7 linked regions of the Homo sapiens genome follow. Changing the gene in region 5 together with the main gene of any one other region gives a genetic interaction. Each region holds a gene or a part of one and is shown on either strand. Other genes may lie near its edges.

Region 1 (4,183 bases), on a different chromosome or scaffold from region 5:
ACCCTTCTACCCTTTCCAGAACTGTTAGCCGGGGATTCTAAATCCTGTTTCTCCTTCCCAGGGTCCTGCTGATCTCTGGGATAGTGCCTCAGTTTTAGGGTTCCTTATGTAAATTTCCTGATTTCTTGTCTCCTCAGAATGGCAAGAGCTGCTGGGGAGTAGAAGGAGCACAAAATTTAGTTTCTAGTCCCAGTTCTGGGCATTACTAACTCTGTGAATCTTCTGAATTTCAGTTTCCTCATAAATCCATCTGTAAAATGAAAGGAAGAACACTTGCTTCACAACTGTGTTTCTGGATCCTGCGTGATTTGTTAATAATAATACTAATGACAAGCAGTAGCATTGATACGGCGTTTTCCACATGCCAGACCCTGTTCTCAGCACTCTACCTATATTAACTCATTTTATTCCTCACACAACCCTATGAAGTAGATAATATTTTTATCTCCATTTTGCAAGAGATGAAGCTGAGGTCTAGAAAGGTTAAGTAACTTACCCAAGGTCGCACAGCTAGTAAGCGGCAAGGGCTGGGCACCTACCTGGGCAGTCTGGCCCCAGGTCCAGTACTCTTGCCCACTGTGCCATGCCATATGTGAAGGTGCCCTCCGTGCCGGCTGGACTATAATAGGCATCCAGTAAATAGTTGTTGAATTTCAGCTGTCTCTAAAACTGTCTCTTGCTGCCCTAGGGTTATCATCTGAAAAGGGGAGCTGTGCTTTAGGCTCTTTTGACATCACTACTCCCAGCACAAAGAGCTGCCACTTTGGGAATGTTGAGTAGGAGCAGTGAAAACAAAATGTCCCGTCTGGAAGGAAACTGGGAGGCCAGCTCATCCAGCCTCCACTGCTCCCAAAGCCGGAAGTTGCTTCAAGCTGCCCTTCTCCACCCACTCATGAACTCTTCAAGGCCACTGTGCCCCTCTTGTGGGAAAGGAGCTGCTGCCAACCTCCTGCTCCCCAGATCCCCAAATCTCTGATCTCTGGAGCTGACCCTTGGAGGATCCCTGACCAAGAGCCGCATTGGTTCTAGACTTACTACAGTCACAGAACAAGAAGTAGGGAGGAGACACTGAGGTTGCTCAGTTTAAAAACCCATCATTTCTATGGCTGCAATAAAGAGGATCACATGGCAAGATGGGCCCCACTCTCCTCCACAGTTATAGCCTTACAGTCACCTTTGGTTTTTGGTGTTTCCATAAACCTTACACCAATCCAACTTCTAACATGCTATGCATGCAATAGGTGCTGAATACAATTTTGTGAATTGAATCAAACTCAAATTGGTAGTTGAATCCCTGCCCCCTAGGACAAACTCCAAGAACACTCAGTCAGCCAGCTGTGTGCCAGCCAAGGGACTCTCTTGTGGAAAGGGTAGCCGGGGTTCCTGGACTTGAGGAAGCCCTAACTTTGGGCAACTGCCTAGAGACGTGCCTCTCTCTAGGGACACAGAAAGCTCATTTCACAGTTAAGATGCCCACAGAGACTTAGAGTCTGCAGAGAAGTTGAAGAGCGGGCACAAAAGTGAGACATCAGCTTCTCATTAGAGTCTACCAGGAAAAATGCCTGAAAGAAATGCTAGGAGAAGCATCCTTCCTTCTTACTCTCCATGCTCTGATTTACCTATCCCTTCTGTCTGTGAGTGAGGCCCAGAGGATGTGGTTCAGAGTCCCTCCCTGGTGGCTGAAGGAGGAGAGGCCCACCATGTCTGGATGGACATCAAGAGTCCCAGACGGAGGGAAGCAGACCTGGTTTCCACGTGGAGCTGGAGGGATGCCACGAAGCCATGATGGAGCCCTGAGCAAGAAGGCATTGGACATTGCTCTTTTTCATAGCTCCCTCAAGCTTGCCAGTGTCTCCACAGTGACTCCTAAATGCCAGGATTCCAATTTACCTCTTAACAGACAGATCAGTGTATCTGGCTAATGGGCACTCCCTCACTAATGGACTGGGGTTATGGAGGGGAGGGCTGTGGTGTAACAGTTTCATAGGTGAAACCCAGGGAGCCTCACTCCTCTCCCAGGTCATATCATTATGCCTACTCCCCCAACAGATGCTTTCCTTCCCCCACTACTTACTTCCAACAGCACCCCTCTTACCTCCAGGACCTTCAGTACCTAGAAGGCTTTGCCACTAGGGCCTGAGGTCTGGGCCTCTAGCAGGGGCATGGTCAAGTTACAGGATGCAAGATGTGCATAAGTGCCCAGCCCAAGGCCACAGAGGTATTGGGATTCACATGCACCTGTTTTCCAGATCCAGAGCTTCCATCCCAAAGACCTGAGCCTGGCCTTCCTTCAGACAAGAGCGTGCCCCTCCTAAGCTAGGGAAGATTTCCAGGGAGCTACAACACCTCTCCTCAGCAGAGTTGCCCACGCCCAGGACACAGTTGCCCATCAGCCTGTATGCTGAAGGGCCCATTCCTAGAATGTGGGAGACCCATGTCCATGACATGGAGCAAGACAGATGGAGAATGCTGTTTGTCTGCAGGATGTGGGTACTCCTGCCGGCAGGAGATGATCAACCCCCCAGCTCTGGGCTTCAGAGATGCCCACACCCCAATACCGCCTTTGGGATACCTGAGAGCCCATCTCCTGATCAAACTGCTCACCGGAATGTAGGCAGGGCTGGTCCTTGGAAAGCCACCCTTCTGTGGGGATACCTTGGCACTCACCACCAGGCTCTGGGTCTGGCCCCCATTCCTGGCCTAGTCGGCAACTCCTACCTTTGCTGAGCAGTCCCGGCTCCCATGTGATAGCTCCTCTCAGCTGATGCTTCTCCAAGGCTGCTGAAGCCTGAAGCACTGCAGTGAGCGGTGAGAGGCAGCCGGCAAAGCAGAGTGCTCCGAGAGCCTCTGGGTCCTAATGGCCTCCTGCTTCCCACCCAGCCCCTCAGAGTCACTTCTGGAGCAAAAAGGTGGGCACCAATGCCCCAGGCAAGGTGCCTGGCAGTGAGCTCAACTCCTCTCACTTCTCTCAGGCTGCTGGATTGCGTCTCAAAAATTTCGTGGGGCCAGGAAATGATAGGTAGGGGAGACCCTCTTGACCAGCCTGATGAAGTAAAAAAAAAAGTACATGGAGTCAGAAAATCCAGGTTTAAGGCCTGGCTATGGCACTTACTAGCCGTGTGACCTTGGGCAAGTTGCATTTTGGCCTTGATTTCTTAGCAGTTCAAAGAGAAGATAGGAGAGATGCATGGTTCTGTGTGACATCAGAACCAAGGTGCTGATGCAGGCAGGTCAGCGCAGACCCAGGGCCCCAAGGCTTAGGCCAGGGAGGCGGCTGAGGCTCCAGGGGATGGTCCAAGGTTTGGCCCCTTTGGAAGCTGCCTAATGCGTATGGGGGACAGGTTTAGGAGCAGCACTCAGGTTTGAAGGGCAGCTGAAGGCTTTGTCTTAACCCTGCCCTTGCCTCCCAAAAGCACATTATTATTATTTGCTTAGATTGTATGTTTATTGGAACTGGGGCTGTGAGGGCTGATGGAGATTGGCAGGGAGGGGGCGGGAGGATCTAACATCCCCCCGAGCCACCATGGGAACCACCACAACACTGCTTCCTGAAGGAGACAGAGTGGGGGCCAGGGACTCAGGAATGCTCACACTGATCTGGATTTGTGGGACTGGACAGAGCTAGGTAGCATCAGCCACTGAGCATCGCCCATCTGTGGCATGATGGGCCTTCAGAGACGCAATGAAGGGGCATGGCCTCCCTCTAGCTATGAAGAAAATGATCATTTACCCGGGTACATGACTGATACCCAAGGATAGAATCCTAACATTGCAAAGCTGTAGGACATCCTACAGGCCAAGGTATCCATGTTTCTGAGACCCAGAGAGATAAAGAGATTGCTCAAAGCCACATAGCTCCACATGGCAGAGCCATGAGTCTAAACAGGGAATTCAGGCATGATCCCCTACTCCAGAGCCTGCTTCCCTGAGACTTGCCTATCTAGGGACTCCTTCTGCCTCTAAGAAGGAAAAAGGGAATTCTGGAATTGTTTACCAGACCCAACCCAAAGAGCCATAAGAACAATGAGTTACCCAAGGACCTCACTGGGACAAGTTGGCTGCCCCAAGCCCCAGGTCAAAAACAAAGAGGCCACTGACAAACCAAGAGCCGATGCAGCAAGTGCCGCTGTCACCAGCCACCACTTTTTGAGCTGTTATGAGTGCCAGGCCCTTTACATACAGT
Region 2 (3,500 bases), on a different chromosome or scaffold from region 5:
ACTCATGATGTGCCTGCCTCAGCCTCCCAAAGTGCTGGGATTACAGGCAAGAGCCACTGCGCCTGGCCAAATCTCCATTTCTTTTAAAAAAAAAAAAAAGTTTGACTTAATATTTTAAGTTTTTGAATTATAAGGAGTCTCTATTGTTCTTTCATTTTTAATTGTATGAATTTATGCCATTGTTTGCTAATTTATGTAGAAGTCATTTTCTTTTATGTTGGCAGATCATTTAAATCTTTATTTTCTTTTCTTAGGCAATTTTTCACAGCAAAAGTCTTTGCTAAACTCCTTCATACAGATTCATATGGAAGAATTTCCATCATGCAGTTCTTTAATTATGTCATGAGAAAAGGTGATTCATTTTTACTGTGCTTGAACTCCTTATCTGGGAATCAAGTAGGTTTTTGGTCTGTGCTTTTATAAGTATTTCTTCTATGTGAAATCACTCTAAGTTTGAATAGTAGAATTTCTTATCTTTTGACCAAGATGTGTTACATAAACTTGGGTTAGCATAAAAAAACAAAAATTTTTTAAACCCTCATGTGTCTTAAAGATAATAGTAGACTAGAAATATTAAGAGCTGAACCAAGAGTTTTAATGTATGGTAATTTGAAATAATTTTAATTTACTGATAATTTTATTTTACCAGTATATTACAAGTTGAGTTGACTGATAGTTTCAAACCCAAAGCTGTAATATCAGTTTCAAGGAGCATCAATTAAACAGCTTGGACTTATGATTCCTACAAGTGCCATAATAATCTGTGAAAGCCTATTGTATACAATCTTTAATAATTGGTTGCTGTAATTAACCTCAGAAATAAAAGCAGCTTCACTGAAGGCATAATATTATACTAGCTGTCCCTGTTTGGTGGAACACCAAGTTTAATTGGTAAAGAACAGTATCTTCAAGGTGTCAATTTTATTATAGCTTTAGTCATGGTAGAATTGTTGAACTCTTCCATTCTATGGTTTTTTGTTTCAAGCAATTTTGTGGTGAGAAGAAATGTTTTTAGAGTTACTAGATTAGCTTGTCTCAAATCTGGCTCTTTATCTCCTTTTTCATATCTGAAGGATAGATCTTAAGAATTACTTTCATTTTCTTGTTTATTGTCAGTTTGGCTTCATCAAACAAGAATAGGACTCAGTTTATATGATGTCGCTGGGCAGGGGTACCTTCGGGAATCTGTAAGTGTTAACCTTATAGATATTATATTAACTCTTATAGACACTAAAATGTAAACTGTAGTTATCACTGGGTGTTGGGATTACAGGCTGTTCTCATAATACTTTGTTTTATTTCTGTCTGTGTGTGTTTGTGTGTACATATTTAGTTTTACTGTAACAAAGCAACTTGTACACTTTCAACTTTTAAAATTGAACATCATCTTTCCAGTGAAACAAAAAACAAATTTAAAATAAACAAAATTACAATAGAGAATGTCAATTCCAAATAAGATCCTACAGGTTCTACTGATTCTCCCATGGAGTAGCAGCCTTCAAGTCATCATTAAGAGAGAATTTATGCTGGGTGTGGTAGCTCACACCTGTAATCCCAGCACTTTGGAAGGATGAGGCAGGCGGATCACCTGAGGTCGGGAGTTTGAGACCAGCCTGACCAACATGGAGAAACCCTATCTCTACTAAAAATACAAAATTAGCCAGGCTTGGTGGCACATACCTGTAATCCCAGCTACTTGGAAGGCTGAGGCAGGAGAATCACTTGAACCCAGGAGGCAGAGGTTGCTGTGAACCGAGATAGCGCCATTGCACTCCAGCCTGGGCAACAAGAGTGAAACTCCGTCTCAAAAAAAAAAAAAAAAAAAAATGTATTGGCTGGGTGCAGTGGCTCACGCCTGTATTCCCAAGGCCTGTACTCCCAGCACTTTGGGAGGCTGACGTGGGCGGGTCACCTGAGGTCAGGAGTTTGAGACCAGCCTGACCAATATGGTGAAATTCCATCTCTACTAAAAATAGAAAAATTTGCTGGGCTGTGGTGGTGCATACCTGTAATCCCAGCTATTCAAGGGGCTGAGGTGGGAGAATCGCTTGAATCTGGGAGGCAGAGGTTGCAGTGAGCCGAGATTGCACCACTGCACTCCAGCCTGGGCAACAGAGGGAGACCCTGTCTCAAAAAAAAAGAGAGAGAGAATTTATTTTAAAGGTGTCATTTTAAACTGCAAGGATGCCCCTTAAAAATCACAATTAAACATGCCAAAGGAAAAGCAACGTTGTCAAAATGCTCACTTTAAACTATCAAAACGTTTCAAACCTACCCTTTGCTGACCTATAACCCCATTTTGTAAAATTTATTTTCTTTTTTTAAATAAGAGACAGTAGACAAGGATGCCGGGCGTGGTGGCTCACGCCTGTAATCCCAGCACTTTGGGAGGCCGAGGCGGGCGGATCACGAGGTCAGGAGATCGAGACCATTCTGGCTAACACGGTGAAACCCCATCTCTACTAAAAATACAAAAAAAAATTAGCCGGGCGTGGTGGCAGGCACCTGTAGTTCCAGCTACTTGGGAGGCTGAGGCAGGAGAATGGCATGAACCCAGGAGGCGGAGCTTGCAGTGAGCCGAGATCACGCCACTGCACTCCAACCTGGGCGAAAGAGCGAGACTCCATCTCAAAAAAAAAAAGACACAGTAGACAAGGAGATGTTGGTAAATGCTAACTGTCCATATTCACATAGAGACATAGTATACTCTGCGCTCAATAGAGGAAAGCAGCTAGAATTCTATGCACGACTACACAAGGGCCTAGCACCTTCCAGCTTCCAGCAGAGCAAAGGGAACAGGTTTTTCTTTTTTTTTCCATAGACCTCGGTGGTGTTGATTCCATATAGTTTTTGTTGAGACACAGGATGTTTCCGTTTTGGGGTTTGGTTTTTTATTTTTATTTTTTTTAACAAATGACATGTGTTACTAAACAAATGTTTAATGTATATTGACTATACAAATTCCTTTTTAGATTCTTTTTCTTCAAACTTTAAAAAAAAAAGGCCTTTTGGCTGGGCGCGGTGGCTCATGCCTATAATCCCAGCATTTTGGGAGGCCGAGGTGGGCAGATCTTGAGGTCAGGAGTTCAAGACCAGCCTGACCAACATGGAGAAACCCCGTCTCTACTAAAAATACAAAAATTAGCCAGGCATGGTGGTGGCCACCTGTAATCCCAGCTACTCAGGAGGCTGAGACAAGAGAATCGCTTGAACCCAGGAGGTGGAGGTTGCAGTGAGCCTAGATTGTGCCATTGCACTCCAGCCTGGGTGACAAGAGCGGACTGTCTCAAAAAAAAAAGCCTTTTAAAGGGGAAAATAAAAAGAATGTAGCATTTTAACATTTAAAAATCACTGAAAAACGTTTGATTATTCATGAGTGATATTAATGTGTCACTATTTTTTAAAGGGCCAAGAATTCCACCCCCCCGCTTTTTTTTTTTTAAGAAAATATAAGAGAAGCCAGACACGGTAGCTCACGCCTGTAATCCCAGCACTTTGGG
Region 3 (4,182 bases), on a different chromosome or scaffold from region 5:
GCTTTACTTTTGAGGCCAGAAAAATGGGAAGGCTCCCCTCTGACTCTGGAAGAGAGACGCAAACCGTAATCTCAACAACACAATCCCCACCTCCAACCTCAGCCGCCCTGGAGCCTCTCTCCCGCCAGTCCGCCCACTGGAACACGGGTTCCATGTGCCATCCAGGGTCAACGCCGCTCTGGGGACGCGTCAGGCCCAGCGCACAGCCTGGGCAGCTCAGCCTGTCAGCTGAGCACGGGCGCCTCAAGGGGTGCGGCCCTCTCAGAAGGAAGGTGAGTCTCCCTGGAGCCCCTGACGACAGCGAAGCGGCTGGGCGCTCTCCGGGGAGTGGGCGCGGCACCCAAGAAGGGTTTCTTACAGTTCCAAGAGAGGACCCCAGCCACAGTCACTCCAGAGCCCACCCGGGGCTTGGAGGAGGCTCTGGAAAATGAGGGATGGGGGAGTGTGCAGAACAGGGGGCGGAGGCTGGCAGGAGCCGAGGGAGGGCTTGGTCGGGTGCGAAGAGTGCCTGGGAGGAGTTAGAGTGGGGAGGGGGTGCGGCGGCGGGGAGAGAAGAGGCGGAGCTGGGGGACCAGACCGCTAAAGGAGAAAGGGGGATTCCAGGCAAGGGGAATGTGGCCAGGCAGTGCGGGAGGGCGGCAGCGGCCAGGCTAATATTCGCGACCCCGACTGGGGCGCGGCAACTTCTGCCCTCAGTCCCCACAAGCTCCCGGCCGCGATTCGCGGCCGAGAAATTCTGCGGAGGGGCCGGTGGGTCAGAGCCAGGCCAGGCAGTTGCTGAGCCTTCCCCTCCCCTCCTGGCGGGAGTGTGTGTGCAAGGGGCCAGGGGGCGGAGTCGGAGAAAGGGTTGGGGGTGTCCGTGTCCAGCGCTCCTCCGGACGCGGCTCCACAATCCAGCTGCGAGAACAGATGGACGCAGCGGCGGCTCACCTCGGGGGCTTCCTGCTCGCTGTGCGCCGAGGTCCAGGCTGAAGCGGAGATCGCAAGCCTCTGGCTCCCGCCTCTCCCAAGGGGCCTCGAGGAACCGGCTGCCGCGCCCCCTTCCCCAAGAGGAGAAGAGCGGGCGCTGACCCCGCGAGTCCTAGAACCGCGGGCGGGGGGCAGGCAGGGGGCGGGGGGCAGAGGGCCAGCTACCGGCGCGGAACGCCCATCCCAGGGGCTGGTTCAAGACTTCCACACCGAGAGCCCTTCCTGGGCCTCCAGCCCTGGAGCATCTGGAGAGCGGACCCCTGCCCGGCCACGCCCCGCCCCCGGCCCCCGCCCCGCCGACGTCGCATTAGCATGAGCGACGTAAGTGGCCCGGGCACCACTCGGGGGCTGGGACTCGCCGCGTCACAGCCCCGAGTGGAAGGGAAAAAAAAAGAGGAGGCGGCGGAGGAGGCAAGAGCCGACGCGAGGGGAGGGGAGCGCAGCGGCGGGGCTAACGGGCGGGCAAGCGGGCGGGCGGCAACAGCATGTCCCTCGGCCAGCGCGGGCGGCCTCTTAGCGCGGCGGGGGCTGCTCTGGGCGCGCCCCGGGCGAAGTGCGCCCAGTCTCCGGCCCCGGCCCCTCGGCGCGCCCGACTTCCCGGCCGCCCCTGAGCCCAGCAGCCGCGGGTCCCGGGATCGGCTAAGAGTAGCTGCAACGCCTCGCCGGACGGAGTCCTTTCCTTTCCCGGGACGCTGGGCCATGAGCTCCGCGGCCACCTGAGGCACAGGGGAGTCTGCTCGGCCAGGACAGCCTCCCCGAAGTCCCGTGCCCTCGCCTCTGCACTGCGGGACGCCAGCGCTCGGCCCTGGCGGAGGCGTCCTCGGAAGAGCATCGGGGTGGGGGCATGGAATCCGCGGAACCTGCGGGCCAGGCCCGGGCGGCGGCCACCAAGCTGTCGGAGGCTGTGGGCGCGGCGCTGCAGGAGCCCCGGCGGCAGAGGCGCCTGGTGCTTGTTATCGTGTGCGTGGCGCTGTTACTGGACAACATGCTGTACATGGTCATCGTGCCCATAGTGCCCGACTACATCGCCCACATGCGCGGGGGCGGCGAGGGCCCCACCCGGACTCCCGAGGTGTGGGAGCCCACCCTGCCGCTGCCCACTCCGGCCAATGCCAGCGCCTACACGGCCAACACCTCGGCGTCCCCGACAGCTGCGTGGCCAGCGGGCTCAGCCCTTCGGCCCCGCTACCCTACGGAGAGCGAAGACGTGAAGATCGGGGTGCTGTTTGCTTCCAAGGCTATCCTGCAGCTGCTAGTGAACCCCTTGAGCGGGCCCTTCATCGACCGCATGAGCTACGACGTGCCGCTGCTGATCGGCCTGGGCGTCATGTTCGCCTCTACAGTCCTGTTCGCCTTCGCCGAGGACTACGCCACGCTGTTCGCGGCGCGCAGCCTGCAGGGCCTGGGCTCAGCCTTCGCCGACACGTCTGGCATAGCCATGATCGCCGATAAGTACCCGGAGGAGCCGGAGCGCAGTCGTGCACTGGGCGTGGCGCTGGCCTTCATTAGCTTCGGAAGCCTAGTGGCCCCGCCCTTCGGGGGCATCCTCTATGAGTTCGCCGGCAAGCGCGTGCCCTTCTTGGTGCTAGCTGCCGTGTCGCTCTTTGACGCGCTGTTGCTGCTGGCAGTGGCCAAACCCTTCTCGGCGGCTGCACGGGCTCGGGCCAACCTGCCAGTGGGCACTCCCATCCACCGCCTCATGCTAGACCCCTACATTGCCGTGGTGGCCGGCGCGCTCACCACCTGTAACATTCCCCTCGCCTTCCTCGAACCCACCATTGCCACGTGGATGAAGCATACGATGGCGGCTTCCGAGTGGGAGATGGGCATGGCCTGGCTGCCGGCCTTCGTGCCTCATGTGCTGGGCGTCTACCTCACCGTGCGCCTGGCGGCGCGCTACCCACACCTGCAGTGGCTGTACGGCGCGCTTGGGCTGGCTGTGATCGGCGCCAGCTCGTGCATCGTGCCCGCCTGCCGCTCCTTCGCGCCGCTAGTGGTCTCACTATGCGGCCTCTGTTTTGGCATAGCCCTAGTCGACACAGCACTGCTGCCCACGCTCGCCTTCCTGGTGGACGTGCGCCATGTCTCAGTCTATGGCAGCGTCTACGCCATCGCCGACATCTCCTATTCGGTGGCCTACGCGCTCGGGCCCATAGTGGCAGGCCACATTGTGCACTCGCTGGGCTTTGAGCAGCTCAGCCTTGGCATGGGACTGGCCAACCTGCTCTATGCTCCCGTCTTGCTGCTGCTCCGCAACGTGGGCCTCCTGACGCGCTCCCGTTCCGAGCGCGATGTGCTGCTTGATGAGCCACCGCAAGGTCTGTACGATGCGGTGCGCCTGCGTGAGCGTCCTGTGTCTGGCCAGGACGGCGAGCCTCGCAGCCCGCCTGGCCCTTTTGATGCGTGCGAGGACGACTACAACTACTACTACACCCGCAGCTAGCATCCCCACTCCTCCTCCAGCCCACCCAACCGCCTTGGGTCAAGGGGGCTGCTCTGCAAGCCCACTGGCCAGCTCTGGCTCAGGGCCCACCTCCTCCAGCGAGTACCCCAGCCACTCCTCAACCTTGACTTCTGCCCAAATCCCCTCCCTGTGACCCGTTCCATATCCCTTTCTCTCTTGTCCAATGGGGCTTGGAGCACCGAGGCCAGCGAAGCCATCGCGCTCCTTGCGGAGGTGAAGAGGACCCTGAGTCCCCACCTGCGGCTCCCCTGTGTAGAGCCTGCATCTGTCTGTCCTTCCTTCCATTGCTCCCAGTGCCAAACTTGGGCCGCTGCACCGCGGCGCCTCCGCCCAAATCAATAAACTGTGTCTGTCCCAGGAGGCCGAGTCTCTTTACTGGTGGGGGGTGCGTGGAGGCGCGCAGGGCCAGAGCAGAGGGGAGGGTGAACTGGGTCTCCAAGTCCCAATCCAGACCTAAGCCAAACTAACACGTAGGCACCTGTAGCTGTTTTTCTACCTGGAAAAGGGGATAGGAAGGAAGCAAACCCAACAAAGGCTGTCACCCACGGTCACCAAGGAGCACCATGCTCCCCTCAGCCCAGGATAGACCCTCTTTTCCAGGCCTAGCGCAGAGCCCGGGGATGCCGCCCGGGGGAGCCTGAGGACCCGCTCCAGCTAGGCACGCCAGGCCCCGCCCTTTGAGGACACGCCCCACACCAGCCTCAGAGCTCTGAGGTGCCTGGGCTGAGCTTCCCTTCAGACCAGAATCC
Region 4 (3,500 bases), on a different chromosome or scaffold from region 5:
TTAGTCAGACTCTGTAACAGAAAGTTTAAGTGTTTATATTATTTGACTTTATTCTATCCTAACTTAACCTGTAGGATTCAATGCTGGATTTTGAAAATCAGACACTTGATCCTGCCATTGTATCTGCACAGCCTATGAATCCAACACAAAACATGGACATGCCCCAGCTGGTTTGCCCTCCAGGTTAGTAGTGGTACATTTTTATGTGAGAGAGAAATATAAGGCCAGTACTTTCAGGTTTTAAAAAGATTGTGAAAATAAATTTTGTTTATTTTAATGACTGTTTAATTTTGACTCTTAGGTCTTTTAATTTGATAGAAAGAATGTTATTGTTCCTATGATTTGAATTAAAAATGTAGTTTATAACTGTTTATTTTTAAACTTTTCATTGGCATGTAGATATAGAAAAATATACGCAAGTTTAATGAGTTTTTATAAACTGAAAACACCTGCAGCTAGATTAAGAAATGAAACATTACCAGTACCCCAGAAACCTACGTTGTTTCCTTTCAATCACTAGTTACCCTCACCCCTAGCGATAGCAACCACTTCCGTACTTGTAACTGTAATAGACCAGTTTTGTCTGTTTTTGTAACTTTAACAAGTGAAATTTTGCTTGGCTTTTAAAATTTCAAAATTAATCTAGGAGTAAAAATAATAGAGGTGCCTTTTTTTGAATGCTTTTAGCTTTCTAGGAGAATTTCTGGATTTTATTACCTTAAAAAAATACACAGCAATGAAGTGGGTAAGGGAATATGTAAGAGGCAAAGGGAAGAGAGAAACCACAAGACAGTTTCAGACTCTTTCTGGACTTACACCATTATTTGAAGTAGTAGCACTAAATACAGTTGGTGCCTTCCATTGGGTTAAGTGGACCTTCTCTCCAGGACTATTAGTGATTGTGAGTCATCTTGGTTTTTCCCAGAACACATCAGTTTTAGTTGCACAAAAGTGGAACTAAATAAAATAACCTATTTAATGTTGCATGATGTTAAATATCATAAAATAAATTGCTGAGTAAAAGTATGTTTAATGACAGTTAATTTGGTGTAAGGTAGTTAGGATTTTTCTGAAGTAAAGGGAGCTCATATCTCTCACATTTTTTTTTTTTTTTTTTTTTTGAGACGGAGTCTCGCTCTGTCGCCCAGGCTGGAGTGCAGTGGCGCAATCTCGGCTCACTGCAAGCTCCGCCTCCCGGGTTCACGCCATTCTCCTGCCTCAGCCTCCCAAGTAGCTGGGACTACAGGCGCCCGCCACTACACCCGGCTAATTTTTTGTATTTTTAGTAGAGACGGGGTTTCACTGTTTTAGCCGGGATGGTCTCGATCTCCTGACCTCGTGATCCGCCCGCCTCGGCCTCCCAAAGTGCTGGGATTACAGGCGTGAGCCACCGCGCCCGGCTCTCACATTTCTATCAAGAGTTTTAGAAAACAGATCAAAGGTGACACCTACAAGAGAGCAATCATGGTTTTTAGTGTTCATTTTCTGAGCTCTACCAAAGGAAGAGAGTAAGTCGTTTTCTCAGCTGGGGAGTTGTGTGAAAGTCAGTATACATAGCACTGATAAAACCTGTAAGGCTATTTAGTTATTTACATAATGCTGAGTCCATTAGACTCTCCAGTGAAAATGGGTACTTTCTAAATGACTAACCAAAGATCGTCGTTTTGATTATCTGTTTAATCATTGTTGGGAAGGGAGGTGAGAGAGTGATGGGAATTGTTAAGAAGATGCATGCTGAGTTGAATATAGGCTGTTAAAAAGTATATATTATTTATTTGTTTATTTAGAGACGCAGTCTCGCTCTATCGCCAGGCTGGAGTGCAGTGGCGCATTCTTGGCTCGGCACGCTGCAACCCCTGCCTCCCGGGTTCAAGGGATTCTCCTGCCTCAGCCTCCCCAGTAGCTGAAAGTACAGGCACACACCACACTACACCCAGCTAATTTTTGTATTTTAAGTAGAGATGGGGTTTCACCATGTTGGCCAGGATGGTGTCAATCTCTTGACCTCGTGATCCACCCGCCTCGGCCTCCCAAAGTGCTGGGATTACAAGCATGAGCCACTGTGCCTGGCCGAAAAGTACATATTTTAAATTTTCTTTTTCTCTAGAAACACTTGAAATTGAAAGTTGGTTATGTTAACATATATTGAGCCGGGTATGGTAGCTCATGCCTGTAATCTCAGTGCTTTGGGAGGCTGAGGAGGGAGGATCACTTGAGCCCAGGAGTTTGAGACCAGCCTGAGCAACATAGACCTCGCCTCTACAAAAAAATTAAAAATTAGTCAAATAAAAAAGTTAGCTTGGCAGGGTGGCATGCATCTATAGTCCCAGCTACTCAAGAAGCCAAGGTGGGAGGATTTCTTGAGCCCAGAGTTTGAGACTACAGTTAGCTATGATGGCGCCACTGCACTCCAGCCTGGGCAACACAGTGAGACCCTGTTTCAGAAGAAACAAAAGGTCAAAATGGAATACTATCTGTCTGAGGTCTAGAGTATGAATAATGCCACTTTATTGTACAGCTTTAAAAGTCTTTTTTCATGGCACTGATTATTTGTTAGTGCATTCTATTAACATTTTACTTTACTTTTGGAAAAAACAAGATGAAACCAATTGTGAAAGTAAACTATTAAATAATAACCACTGCCGGTAAACCAAAATGCTCACTTGAAAGCTAAAATTTTATCTGCATTTCCCAATTTACTTTCATGATTGCTAAAAAGTTTATTTATGGTTTGGCTATAGAAATTTACCTTTAATTGCTGGGCATGGTGGTTCATTCCTATAATCCCAGCACTTTGGGAGGCTGAGGTGGGCAGATTGCTTGAGCCTAGGAGTTTGAGACCAGCCTGGGCAACATGGCGAAACCCTGTCTCTACTAAAAATACAAATATTATCCGAGTGTGGTGGCACACACCTGTAGTCACAGCTACTTGGGAGGCTGAGGTGGGAGGATCACTTGAGCCTGGGAGGCAGAGGTTGCAGTGAGCTAAGATCACATCACTGTACTCCAGCCTGGGTGACAGAGTGAGACACTCCCCCCCCCCCCCCCCCCGCAAAAAAAAAAAAAAAAAAAAAAAGCCTTTAATAGCGAAATAAAAGGTATTTAGACGCGTCTCTCTAAAAATTTAATTTTGTTTGACAAAAATGTTTTGGTCACCTTTGCAGTTCATTCTGAATCTAGACTTGCTCAGCCTAATCAAGTTCCTGTACAACCAGAAGCGACACAGGTAAGAGTGATAAAACTATTTTCTTCAGGGCCAGGTTAGGTGGCTCGTACCTATAATCCTAGTACTTTAGGAGGCTGAGATGGGAGGATCACTTGAGGTCAGGAGTTCAAGACCAGTCTGGGCAGTGTAGCGAGACACCATCTCTATTTTAAAAAAATAATTAAAAAATATTTTTTCACTTTTGTTTTAATTGGTTCCTTGGTTTCTTTCTTAGCTTATGAAAGAAAATAAGAATTTCATCAGTGTCCAAGTCTTCTGTTGGAATTCAGCAAAT
Region 5 (3,500 bases):
CCTGGCTAATTTTTGTATTTTTAGCAGAGACTCAAACTCCTGACCTCGTGATCTGCCTGCCTCAGCGTCCCTAAGTGCTGGGATTACAGGCGTGAGCCACCACACACAGCACAGTTTCTTGATTTCTTACATGAGCAGGAAGAGCCACTGCAAATCCCACATGGTCCACTACAATCTGGGAAAGTCACCCTGTCCCCCTGCCAAAGCGAATCTACTTCTAAGAAGATACCAGGGGACAAGGGTATGAACAGCTGTGAGGATGCCAGTTTCTGCATCTTGCCAGGTACCATACAAACCTTTGCTGTTTTCAAAATGCCATCGTTGTTCACTGGATTTGTGGTGACGACAAATTGTCCACCATCATCATTCAATATGGTGTATACAGCCTCCCACGCTGGGGTATTGGGGGCATCAGCATCAGTCACTTTCAGTGTGGTGATTACGACGTTAGCCTCGTTCTCAGGCACCTGACCCTTGTACTGCAGAGCAAAGAGATGTGTCATTTACAAAGTACCAAGACTGCTAGCAGAGCTGAGTCTCAGGGGGCTAAAGGATTCCTCTTTTTTTGTTGTTCTTTTGAGATAAGATCTCACTGTCACCAGGCTGGAGTGTATTTGAGCGATCATGGCTCACTGTAGCCTCAACCTCCTGGGCTCAAGCAATCCTCCCACCTCAGCCTCCAGAGTAGCTGGGACCACAGGCATGCACCACCACACCTGGCTAACTGAAAGCAAGCTTCAAGGAGAAGATGTGACAAGGAGAGGCCAGGCAATGGGCGCACTGGGGTGCAATGGTACAATCTCGGCTCACTGCAGCCTCCGCCTCCTGGGTTCAAGCAACTCTCATGCCTCAGATGCCCGAGTAGCTGGGATTACAAGCATGCACCACCACGCCCAGCTAATTTTTGTATTTTTAGTGGAGATGGAGTTTCGCCACGTTGGCCAGGCTGGTCTCAAACTCCATCCTCAAGGGATCCACCAGCCTTGGCCTCTCAACTTGCTAGATTACAGGTGTGAGCCACCACGCCTGGCCATTATACAGGATGATTTAAACTTACCCTACTTGGTTCTCAATACCTTCTCCTTGAATGCATGTAATATCCTTGGCATACAATAATTCTCATAAGATGTCTTCCTGGCTATACCAGAAACACCATGAGAATGGAATCTTTGTGTGTGATGGTCTCTCCAGTGTCTAACACAGTGCCTAATATAAACTTAGAAAATATTTGTTCAATAAAGAAATGAAACCAGGTAATATTTGCTATAAAAATGTACCATGAGACTATGAAATCAGTAGGTGCTTTTTGCAACTTCACAATCTTGCACCAATTGGCCCCAGGCCAAGGGTGGAAAAAAGATACTAAAAGACAACTGCCATCTCAAGATGCTTGCTTTTAAGTTTAAAGTTAACATTCTCTAGTCTGGAGAGAGTTTTCAAAGACTTCGCCCATGAGCAGTGGTGACACTTAGTTCATGAACAACAAAAGACCTTTCTTTGGAAACCCTCTAAGGAGTTATAGAATTACCGTGGTGGGATTGAAGATCGGAGGATTATCGTTGGTGTCAGTGACTGTGATCACAGCTGTTGCTGTTGTGCTTAACCCCTCACCTTGAAGGTCAGCAGCTTGAACCACCAGGGTATACGTAGGGAAACTCTGCAGAGAGATCGACACAACCAAGTCAGGACCAGGAACACTAGCCACCTTTGGCCTAGCCCAGCCCAACACATGGAACCAGAATATTTAACCATGTGCTTCATGCCAGCCTGCCTGTCTTCTAGGCACGGAACCTCTGGGCACAAGCTTAGATGCAAAGCTTAGACCATCACTGTATTAACTGACAACTGGCCTAGCAGGATTTTGCTTTGTCCACGGGATTGAGCTAATACACATTTGTCCTCCACACCCTCTGGATCCTCCTGACCCCTGACCTCTCGGTCCAGCCCAGTGGTGACCACACTGATGACTCCTGTGTTCCTGTTAATGGTGAACATATTTTTGTCAGGGAGCTCAGGATCTTGGCTGAGGATGGTGTAAGCGATGGCGGCATTGTAGGTGTTCACATCATCGTCCGCGTCTGTGGCTGTGACCTCCATCACAGAGGTTCCTGGAAGAGTTCAAGGAGATGAAGGTTTAGACAAGCTGCACTTTGGGACTGGGTCAATACTGCTTAATCCAATTCTGCCCTGAGGGATAAAGGAGGGGACATGGGGGTGGTACCGTGTCAGAGTTCCCTAATTCCTAGAATTCTTACCAAAGTGCTAGGGGAGAAAGAAAGCTCAAACTATCAACTTATTATCCAGGTATAAATACACAAATGGTAATAAAGAAAAGAAAGGGAATGATTACCACAAAAGTCAGGGTGTGGTTATCTTTTTTTTTTTTTTTTTTTTTGAGACGGAGTTTTGCTCCTGTTGCCCAGGCTGGAATGCAATGGCGTGATTCGGCTCACCACAATCTCTGTCTCCCGGGTTCAAGCAATTCTCCTGCTTCAGCCTCCCAAGTATCTGGAATTATAGGCATGCGTCGCCACGCCCAGCTAATTTTCTATTTTTAGTAGAGACAGGGTTTCTCCATGTTGGTCAGGCTGGTCTCAAACTCCTGACCTCAAGTGATTTGCCCACCTTGGCCTCCCAAAGTGCTGGGGTTACAGGTGTGAACCACCACACCCAGCCTAGGGTGTGGTTATCTTTATGGAGGAGAGAAAAGAATGTGACCAAGGGGGATTGTTTAGGGCTTTAAGGTACTGGTAAAGATCTGTTCCTTAATTAGGAAGGTTGTTCTTAGCCAGGTATAGTAGCTCATGCCTATAATCTTAGCAGCTTGTGGGGCTGAGGTGGGAGGATTGCTTGGGCCCGGGAGTTTGAAAGTAGCCTGGACAACAAAGCAAGACCCTGTCTCTGAAAAAAAAATTTTTTTTTTTTTGAGACGGAGTCTGGATCTGTCACCCAGGCTGGAGTGCAGTGGCGTGATCTCAGCTTACTGCAACCCCCGCCTCCCGGGTTCAAGCAATTCTCCTGCCTCAGCCTCCCAAGTAGCTGGGATTACAGGCCCCCGCCACCACGACCGGCTAATTTTTTTGTATTTTTAATAGAGACGAGGTTTCACCATGTTGGTCAGGCTGGTCTTGAACTCCTGAGCACAGGTGACCCATCCACCTTGGCCTCCCAAAGTGCTGGGATTACAGGCATGAGCCACCATGCCCAGCCTAAAAAAAAAAAAAATTAATAATAAAAAAGGGAAGATTGTTCTTAAACTCTCCCTATTTTATATGTTTCCACAGGTAGACTGTTACACACATGCATATAACACAACAATGGCTTGCCAAGAAGTTCTGTCCGTAGGAAGGATCAGCTTTAGTTACACAACCTTTGGGCTTGGACAACACTTTGGGGTCCAAAGAACCTAAGAGTCTTTCTGAGTATTCAGATTCTCATTAGTGGATATACCTGGAAGAGCACCTTCCATGACAGACCCCTTAAAGACCTCCTGGGTGAAT
Region 6 (3,500 bases), 1.6 Mb from region 5:
CTCTAACTCTTAGCCTCAGGCAATCCTCCTGCCTCAATCTCCCAAGTAGCTAGGACTACAGGTGCATGCCACCATGCCCAGCTCATTTTTCTTTTTTGTTTTGTTTTGTTTTGTTTTGTTTTAGAGACAGGGTCTCACTGTGTTGCCCAGGCCGGTCTTGAACGCCTGGACTCCTCAAGCAGTCGTCCCACCTAGGCCTCCCAAAGTGCTGGGATTACAGGCGTGAGCTACCACGCCCAGCCCATCAATTTCCTTACCTATTGATTGTCTGGAGTATTTGCATAGCTGGCTTTGGAAGGAACATGGAACAAAAGGACTTCTAAATCTTAGCAGTATAGTAAATAGTGTTTATTTTCATTTATTATTTACTTTAGAGTCCCACTCTGTCACCCTGGTTGGAGTGCAGTGGCTCAGTCACAGATCACTGCAGCCTTGACCTCCTGAGCTCAAGTGAGCCTCCCACCTCAGCCTCTTGAGTAACTGGGACTACAGGTGTGTCCAGCTATTTTTTGTATTTTTTTGTAGAGACGAGGTATCACCATGTTGCCCAGGCTGTTCTCGAACTTCTGGCCTCAAGCAGTTGGCCTGCCTTGACCTCCCAAAGTGCTGAGATTACAGGCATGAGTCACTGTACCTGACCTGTTTTTAGATATATCTTTTATAATTTATGTAATGCTATGAATTAATAACCACCACCCTTGCTGTGTCCAGGGAACACTTGTCTTCCAAGGCCAGCCAGATTTGCGGGTCTGCTGAAAGCATTAATTTCTCTAAGAAAAGAAACCATTCTGTATTTTATGAATTATAGAATAGTTGCAGATTAAGATTCCTTAGGGAAGGGCGGTAGCTTGGTTTGATTTGGTTTGGTTTTTGACAGTGTTTTTTTAAGGCATAGGAAAATACGTCTGACAGAGGTAGGAGGCATCATTCCTTTCTATAGAAAAAGATAAGATTCTAGGCCTCTAAAACAATTCTAACTTCTAGGCATCCATCCTCTGTCTTCCTGGCTTCCTAGGAAACCACAGCTTCTCCAGGGAGTCTATGCCATGGGCTTCAATCGACCCTCCAAGATACAAGAGAACGCATTACCCATGATGCTTGCTGAACCGTGAGTATGCAGATGAAGCGCATCTCACCCAGTGTGATTAGATCAATCTTCCCCAAACTGCGTTTTTGTGCCTGAGAACAGAAGGAGCTGTTTGGGGCCACGTGTTTCCTCAGGAATACAGCTTAGGCAAGTGCAGAGAGAATCGGATGGAGTTAGCTACAGTTTCTGCCTTTCCCACTTAACAATAGAAACTTATAGAGAAAGGTAGTGCTTTATTCCATGCTATCTTAAAAACTGGGCTTAAGGCCGGGCATGGTGGCTCACTCCTGTAATCCTAGCACTTTGGGAGGCCGAGGCGGGCGGATCACCTGAGGTCAGGAGATTGAGTCCAGCCTGGCCAACATGGCAAAACCCTGTCTCTACTAAAAATACAAAATTAGCTGGGCACGGTGGCCCAAACCTGTAATCCTAGCACTTTGGGAGGCCAAGGTGGGCGGATTGCCTGAGCTCAGTAATTCGAGACCAGCCTGGGCAACATGGTGAAACCCCGTCTTACTAAAATCAAAAAAAAAAAAATATCCAGGCCTGTTGGCATGTGCCTGTAGTCCCAGCTACTCAGGAGGCTAAGGCAGGAGAATTGCTTGAACCCGGGAGGCAGAGGTTGCAGTGAGCCGAGATGGTGCCACTGTACTCTAGCCTGGTGACAGCAAGACCCTGTCTCAAAAAAAAAAAAAAACTAAACTAAAAATACAACAATTAGCCTGGCATGGTGGCACGTACCTGTGGTCATGTAGCTGAGGCAGGAGAATTGCTTGAACCCCAGAGGCAGAGGTTGCAGTGAGCCGAGACATGCCACTGCACTCTAGCCTGGGAAACATAGACTCTGTCTCAAAAAAAAAAAAAAAAAAAAAACTGGGTTTAAAAAATATTATTTTGATGTGAATGGTGTTGCAATAAATTCAAAAACAAACAAAATATTATTTGGAAATTTTTGAGACCTACACAAAGGTGTAAAGAACAATACCAAGAACACCTCTGTAGCCCTATCCTGCCAAGAAAGGAAGCAGGTCCAGTTGATAGTTGAAGCCCCTGAATTCCCCTCCTTCCACATCCTTCTCCCACCCTGACAAGACTAAGTTCCTTTTGAGACAGGGTCTCATTCTGTTTCCCCATCTAGAGTGCAGTGGTGCAATTACAGCCCACTGCAGCCTCGACCTCCTGGGCTTAATTAATCCTCTCACCTCAGCCTCCGGAGTAGCTGGGACTATAGGCATGTGCCACCATGCCCAGCTGACTTTAAAAAAACTTTTTTGTAGTTTGAGAAGCTGAGGCAGGTGGATCACTTGAGGTCAGGAGTTTGAGACCAGCCTGGCCAACATGGTGAAACCCCGTCTCTACAAAAAATACAAAAAAATTAGCCGGGCTTGGTGGCGCACACCTGTAATCCCAGCTGCTAGGGAGGCTGAGGTGGGAGGATCGCTTGAACCCAGGAAACAGAGGTTGCAATGAGCCAAGATTACACCATTGCACTCCAGCCTGGGCGACAGAGTAAGACTCTGTCTCAAAAAAAAAAAAAAAATTTGTAGAGACAGGGTATCACTATGTTGCCAGGGCTGGTCTCAAACTCCTGGCCTCAAGTGATTCTCCAGCCTCAGCCTCCCAAAGTGTTGGGATTATAGGCATGTGTTACTGCACCTGGCATATTTATCATTTTTTCTTTTTTGAGATGGAGTCTCCTCTGTCGCCCAGGCTGGAGTGCAGTGGTGCAATCTTGGCTCATTTCAACCTCTGCCTTCCAGGTTCAAGTGATTCTCCTGCCTCAGCCTCCTGAGTAGCTAGGATTACAGGCGCACACCACCACACCTGGCTAATTTTTGTATTTTTTTGTCTGTTCGTTTGTTTTTGGGATGAAGTCTCGCTCTGTTGCCCAGGCTGGAGTGCAATGGCGCGGTCTCAGCTCACCGCAACCTTCGCCTCCCGGGTTCAAGTGATTCTCCTGGCTCAGCTTCCCGAGTAGCTGGGATTACAGGTGCCTGCCACCATGCCTGGCTAATTTTTGTATTTTTAGTAGAGATGGGGTTTTACCACGTTGGCCAGGCTGGTCTCGAACTGCTGACCTCGTGATCTGCCTGGCTCAGCCTCCCAAAGTGCTGGGATTACAGGCGTGAGCCACCGCACCCAGCCTAATTTTTGTATTTTTAATGGAGGTGGGGTTTCACCATGTTGGCCAGGCTGGTGTCGAACTCCTGACCTCAAGTGATCTGCCCACCTTAGTTTATTTATTTATTTATTTATTTATTTTTTTGTGAGATGGAGTCTCGCTCTGTCGCCCAGGCTGGAATGCAGTGGCGCAACGTCTGCTCACTGCAAGCTCCGCCTCCCAGGTTCATGCCATTCTCCTGCCTCAACCTTCCCAGTAGCTGAGACTACAGGTACCCGCCACCACGCCCGG
Region 7 (3,500 bases), about 67 Mb from region 5:
CGGGGCAGATGTGAGCGCTGGAGCAGCACCCAGCCCAAGGGCCAGGTGGGAAGCAGATGCCTCGGCTCCAGAGCTTTGAGGTTATTCTGTGAATCCAGATTGCATTTCAATAAATGTTGAGGTTGAACCGTGTGGAATTGCTAATACTGGCAATAGTGGTTCCAACGGATACTTCTAACCACGTAAACACTCACGAAGTAAAGCAGCCCGCATCCCCCACCACCCCTGAGCCTTGATGCCAGCGTGCCTGCCCCGTGCACGCGTGAACCTCGACAGCTTCCCCTGCTGGGCTGGCTTCCCACAGGCGTGCTCTGAGGAGGCAGCTTGAGGATCTCCCCATCCCCTCTCGGCCTCCACCCAGGACACACAGCAGTCACCCTAGAGGCCAGCACCTTCAGGGCTCTTGGGACATTCTGCTGCTCCCTGGATTCTGGTGTCTGTGATGAATGCGGGCACAGGGACCTGCTCCTGAGCCTGGATTCTGGTGTCTGTGATGGATGCGGGCGCGGGGACCCGCTCCTGAGTGGTGAGGCTGCTTCCCTCTTAGATTCCTGCATCAGTTACCTGAAGAGTGCCCTGAAATTTCAAGGCAAGTCATTTAAAAAGGTGCAACTGTTTATAACGACTTAGTTTTGGGAATCGAATTTCCCAAATATTGTTCAATAGAAAACAAGGCATGGCGATGACAGGCTAGGGACTCTGTGGGGCTGTTGCTTCACATGCAGTCCCTGACTCCAGGCTGAGTGTCTGTCAGCACACACATTGTCTGCTCTGCAGCGTGCAGGGGCCTGGGAACACACTGCTTCACCACCACCTCATTTGGGCCCCTGTGTAAGGTTTTATTTGCGGGAGAACATTTCTCTGCTACAGAAACGTGACGAGCCCTGGTCCCTGAGGGCAACAAACGCACCTCCCTCTGAAGTTCACTCACAGAAGGCTCCATCTGCCCCTGACCACGCATCCATGTGCCCTGCCCACCTGGCTCCTGCAACCAGGTGTAGGTGGGGGACAGAGAAGGCTGGGCACAGGCCTGCTGTGAGTGGGGAAGCAGGCCCTGACTTAAGCCACTGAGTGAAAGATTTGTGGCAGATGGGGTGACGGGGCCCCAGGAGGTGAGGGGGGCAGGTGGGGGGCACTGGTTCAGACCCATGTCTGACCCCTGCTCAGCCCCTTGCTGGTTATGAGGGGCCCAGATGAGCTGCTTCTCCTCGGTCCCAAGTCCCTCAGCTGCTGGGAGGAGGGAACACCACCATGAGCCGCTTGGGGGTCGGGCAGCTGAGCACGCAGGACAGCACGCCTGAGGAGCTGGCCCCCCGCGGAGTCTCCGGTCAGGCAGCGCCCTCGTCTTGGATGCTGTGAATTCAGTGACAGGGAAGCCGGTGTTGCTGGTGGGCTTCCCCTTCCCACCTCCACCCCCACGCCAGCGCCTTCAAGGGTCAAGTCAGGCAGAGAGGAACAGCTGTCTCAGGAAGACAGAAATAGCAGAGTAGGGCCCGTCCCTGCAGGGATACGACCACTGCAGCCAGGCCCGGCGGCTGGGATGAACCCTTCCCATCAGGAAGACATGGGACCCAGGGCTTGCAGGCAGGTGAGGGGGAGGGCGTGATGCTTCCCGAAGCCACTGCCCAATGGAGGCACAGCCTGTGCCGACCGCCCTTTCCGAGGCAAACAGAGACCACGAAAGTGGCGTGACGGCTGGCGTGGCCTCTGGAGCCCACCTGCACTCACCACTGCCTCTCTGCTCTTGGCCCACAGTGCAGTTCGACATGATGCGCGCCTGCAACCTGGTGGCCACGGCCGCGCTCACCGCAGGCCAGCTCACCTTCCTCCTGGGGCTGGTGGGCCTGCCCCTGCTGTCACCCGACGCCCCGTGCTGGGAGGAGGCCATGGCCGCTGCATTCCAACTGGCGAGTAAGTACCTGGGCGGGTGTGGCCACCGCGCCCTTGCCCCCTGTGGCCTTCTGGTGCCACAGGAGGGTCCTGAGGCCTTGGGTGGCCTGGGGGGAAGCTGCAGGCCATACCTCTCAACATGGCCACAGGCCACTGAGAAGCCCCATGGGGCATCCTCCCTCCCTCTTGCTGTAGGCAAGAATGATGAAAGACAGAAACACACCCAGGCCAAGGAGCAGGGAGGCTGCGACCACCTGGCGTGTCTGTCACACCCTTTTCCACTTTAAAGGCTGAGGCACTTTGCTTTCCTGAGTCTGTGGGGTCTGATTGCTGACTGGCCCTTGTGCAGTCCACATGGGGCAGCCTGGGTCCTGCCCCTTCCTCAATGCTGAGGCAGCTGGTGGGGAGCAGCCCCTGGGCAGAGGCAGAAGAGCCCATGCCTGGCCCTGACCTTCCCAGCTAAGAGGCCTAGAACAGGTCAGGCCTAGGAAGGCCAAGGCATGTGCTCTGTTATAAACGCAGCTTCCTAGGACCTGCCTGGGGTCAGCCTGGGGTCAGCGCAGGCCCTTTCCGTGAGCGGGACAAGACAGAGTGAGAACACGCTAGCACGTTCCACACTGCCTGAGCCGACAGTGAGGTGCCTGCACGAGCACATGCTGTGTGCCTGGCTCGGACACTGATGCAGACGGCAGGACCATCACGAGGCCCTGGCTTCCCCAAGCCGCCATGTGAGTTGGGGAGGAGGCCCGGCCTTGCAGGCGAGGGGCCATTGGTGCTCAGAGCCTCCTCTCAACGCTCTAGACCCAGCAACCTGGGACAGGTCTTGAGAAGACCTGGCGTCATAGAGGGTGACAGTGATGGAGTTGTCGTCAACGACCTATGGAAGGGTCCTGCGGTGTTCTAGACAAGTGCTTGAGCCACAGCAGTGTCCAGCCATGACCCCCAGCGACCCCAGGGGGCTCTGCTGGTCTTCTGTGGCTGACTGAGAGGTTTGAAGACTGTGGGCATCTGGGGCAGGCTCAGGTCTCCTGCTGCTCACTGGGACAGGTCAGCCCGGTGCCCGCAGAGACAGGGACACAGAGAAAGCGAGCATGTCGGCCCATGGCTGAGCATGACCAGCACGGAGCTGCCCGCACCCTCCTTCTCCTCCTCGAGGCCGGTGCAGCGTTCTGCAGGTTGCCCTGCAGTTCCCACAGAGGAAGTGGCAGGAAGTCCAGAGTGAATCATTCTAGGAATAATGATCCTGGGCCCTTATCTTTCTTAAGAAATACAATTTCCAGAAGGAGGCTGACAGACTGTGGGGGCAGGTATTCCTGTGCTGGAAAGTGCCCTGAGCGAGTCAGGCCGGGCTCTCTGAGCGCTATTAATAGCATGGCGTGGCCCTGGGCAAGTCACTTCCCCTGGCGGGTAGGGGCGGGAAGGGAGGGGCCTCGAGGCTTCAGTGGAAGAGCACAGGGCGTGGAGCCTGGAACTGGAGCTGTGTCTTGGCTCCATCACCATCGACGTGGGGTCAGGCAGATGACTAAACTAACGTGAGCCTCTGCATGCCCAACTTCGAAAAGGGTAATTTCTGCCCCCACCCAACTGACTGTAAGAACGAATGAGACAGG

Evidence for each region.
Region 1: changes in CDH1 (region 5) and GPR61 together harm fitness more than expected from each alone (negative genetic interaction), as found in Homo sapiens cells (one large-scale study listed by BioGRID).
Region 2: changes in CDH1 (region 5) and PPP2R3C together harm fitness more than expected from each alone (negative genetic interaction), as found in Homo sapiens cells (one large-scale study listed by BioGRID).
Region 3: changes in CDH1 (region 5) and SLC18A3 together harm fitness more than expected from each alone (negative genetic interaction), as found in Homo sapiens cells (one large-scale study listed by BioGRID).
Region 4: changes in CDH1 (region 5) and CAPRIN1 together harm fitness more than expected from each alone (negative genetic interaction), as found in Homo sapiens cells (one large-scale study listed by BioGRID).
Region 6: changes in CDH1 (region 5) and DDX19A together harm fitness more than expected from each alone (negative genetic interaction), as found in Homo sapiens cells (one large-scale study listed by BioGRID).
Region 7: changes in CDH1 (region 5) and TMEM204 together harm fitness more than expected from each alone (negative genetic interaction), as found in Homo sapiens cells (one large-scale study listed by BioGRID).

The regions. Positions count from the first base shown.
Region 1 is NC_000001.11:109,538,489-109,542,671, reverse strand, and holds the start of GPR61 (G-protein coupled receptor 61), read right to left. Parts: upstream 2,801-4,183; 5' UTR 2,719-2,800; exon of another isoform or gene 2,605-2,718; intron 251-2,604; 5' UTR 1-250. UniProt on the Homo sapiens protein: Orphan G-protein coupled receptor. Constitutively activates the G(s)-alpha/cAMP signaling pathway. Shows a reciprocal regulatory interaction with the melatonin receptor MTNR1B most likely through receptor heteromerization.
Region 2 is NC_000014.9:35,104,991-35,108,490, reverse strand, and holds part of PPP2R3C (serine/threonine-protein phosphatase 2A regulatory subunit B'' subunit gamma), read left to right. Parts: intron 1-254; coding exon 255-352; intron 353-1,116; coding exon 1,117-1,187; intron 1,188-3,500. UniProt on the Homo sapiens protein: May regulate MCM3AP phosphorylation through phosphatase recruitment. May act as a negative regulator of ABCB1 expression and function through the dephosphorylation of ABCB1 by TFPI2/PPP2R3C complex.
Region 3 is NC_000010.11:49,608,928-49,613,109, forward strand, and holds SLC18A3 (vesicular acetylcholine transporter), read left to right. Parts: upstream 1-1,382; 5' UTR 1,383-1,813; coding exon 1,814-3,412; 3' UTR 3,413-3,793; downstream 3,794-4,182. UniProt on the Homo sapiens protein: Electrogenic antiporter that exchanges one cholinergic neurotransmitter, acetylcholine or choline, with two intravesicular protons across the membrane of synaptic vesicles.
Region 4 is NC_000011.10:34,086,231-34,089,730, forward strand, and holds part of CAPRIN1 (caprin-1), read left to right. Parts: intron 1-74; coding exon 75-183; intron 184-3,164; coding exon 3,165-3,226; intron 3,227-3,500. UniProt on the Homo sapiens protein: mRNA-binding protein that acts as a regulator of mRNAs transport, translation and/or stability, and which is involved in neurogenesis, synaptic plasticity in neurons and cell proliferation and migration in multiple cell types.
Region 5 is NC_000016.10:68,810,292-68,813,791, reverse strand, and holds part of CDH1 (cadherin-1 isoform 1 preproprotein), read right to left. Parts: coding exon 3,451-3,500; intron 2,109-3,450; coding exon 1,933-2,108; intron 1,658-1,932; coding exon 1,529-1,657; intron 480-1,528; coding exon 297-479; exon of another isoform or gene 230-296; intron 1-229.
Region 6 is NC_000016.10:70,360,403-70,363,902, forward strand, and holds part of DDX19A (ATP-dependent RNA helicase DDX19A), read left to right. Parts: intron 1-1,015; coding exon 1,016-1,108; exon of another isoform or gene 1,109-1,234; intron 1,235-3,500. UniProt on the Homo sapiens protein: ATP-dependent RNA helicase involved in mRNA export from the nucleus.
Region 7 is NC_000016.10:1,540,166-1,543,665, forward strand, and holds part of TMEM204 (transmembrane protein 204), read left to right. Parts: exon of another isoform or gene 1-560; coding exon of another isoform or gene 561-576; intron 577-818; exon of another isoform or gene 819-1,328; coding exon of another isoform or gene 1,329-1,353; intron 1,354-1,755; coding exon 1,756-1,911; intron 1,912-3,500. UniProt on the Homo sapiens protein: Can influence paracellular permeability. Appears to be involved in cell-cell interactions through adherens.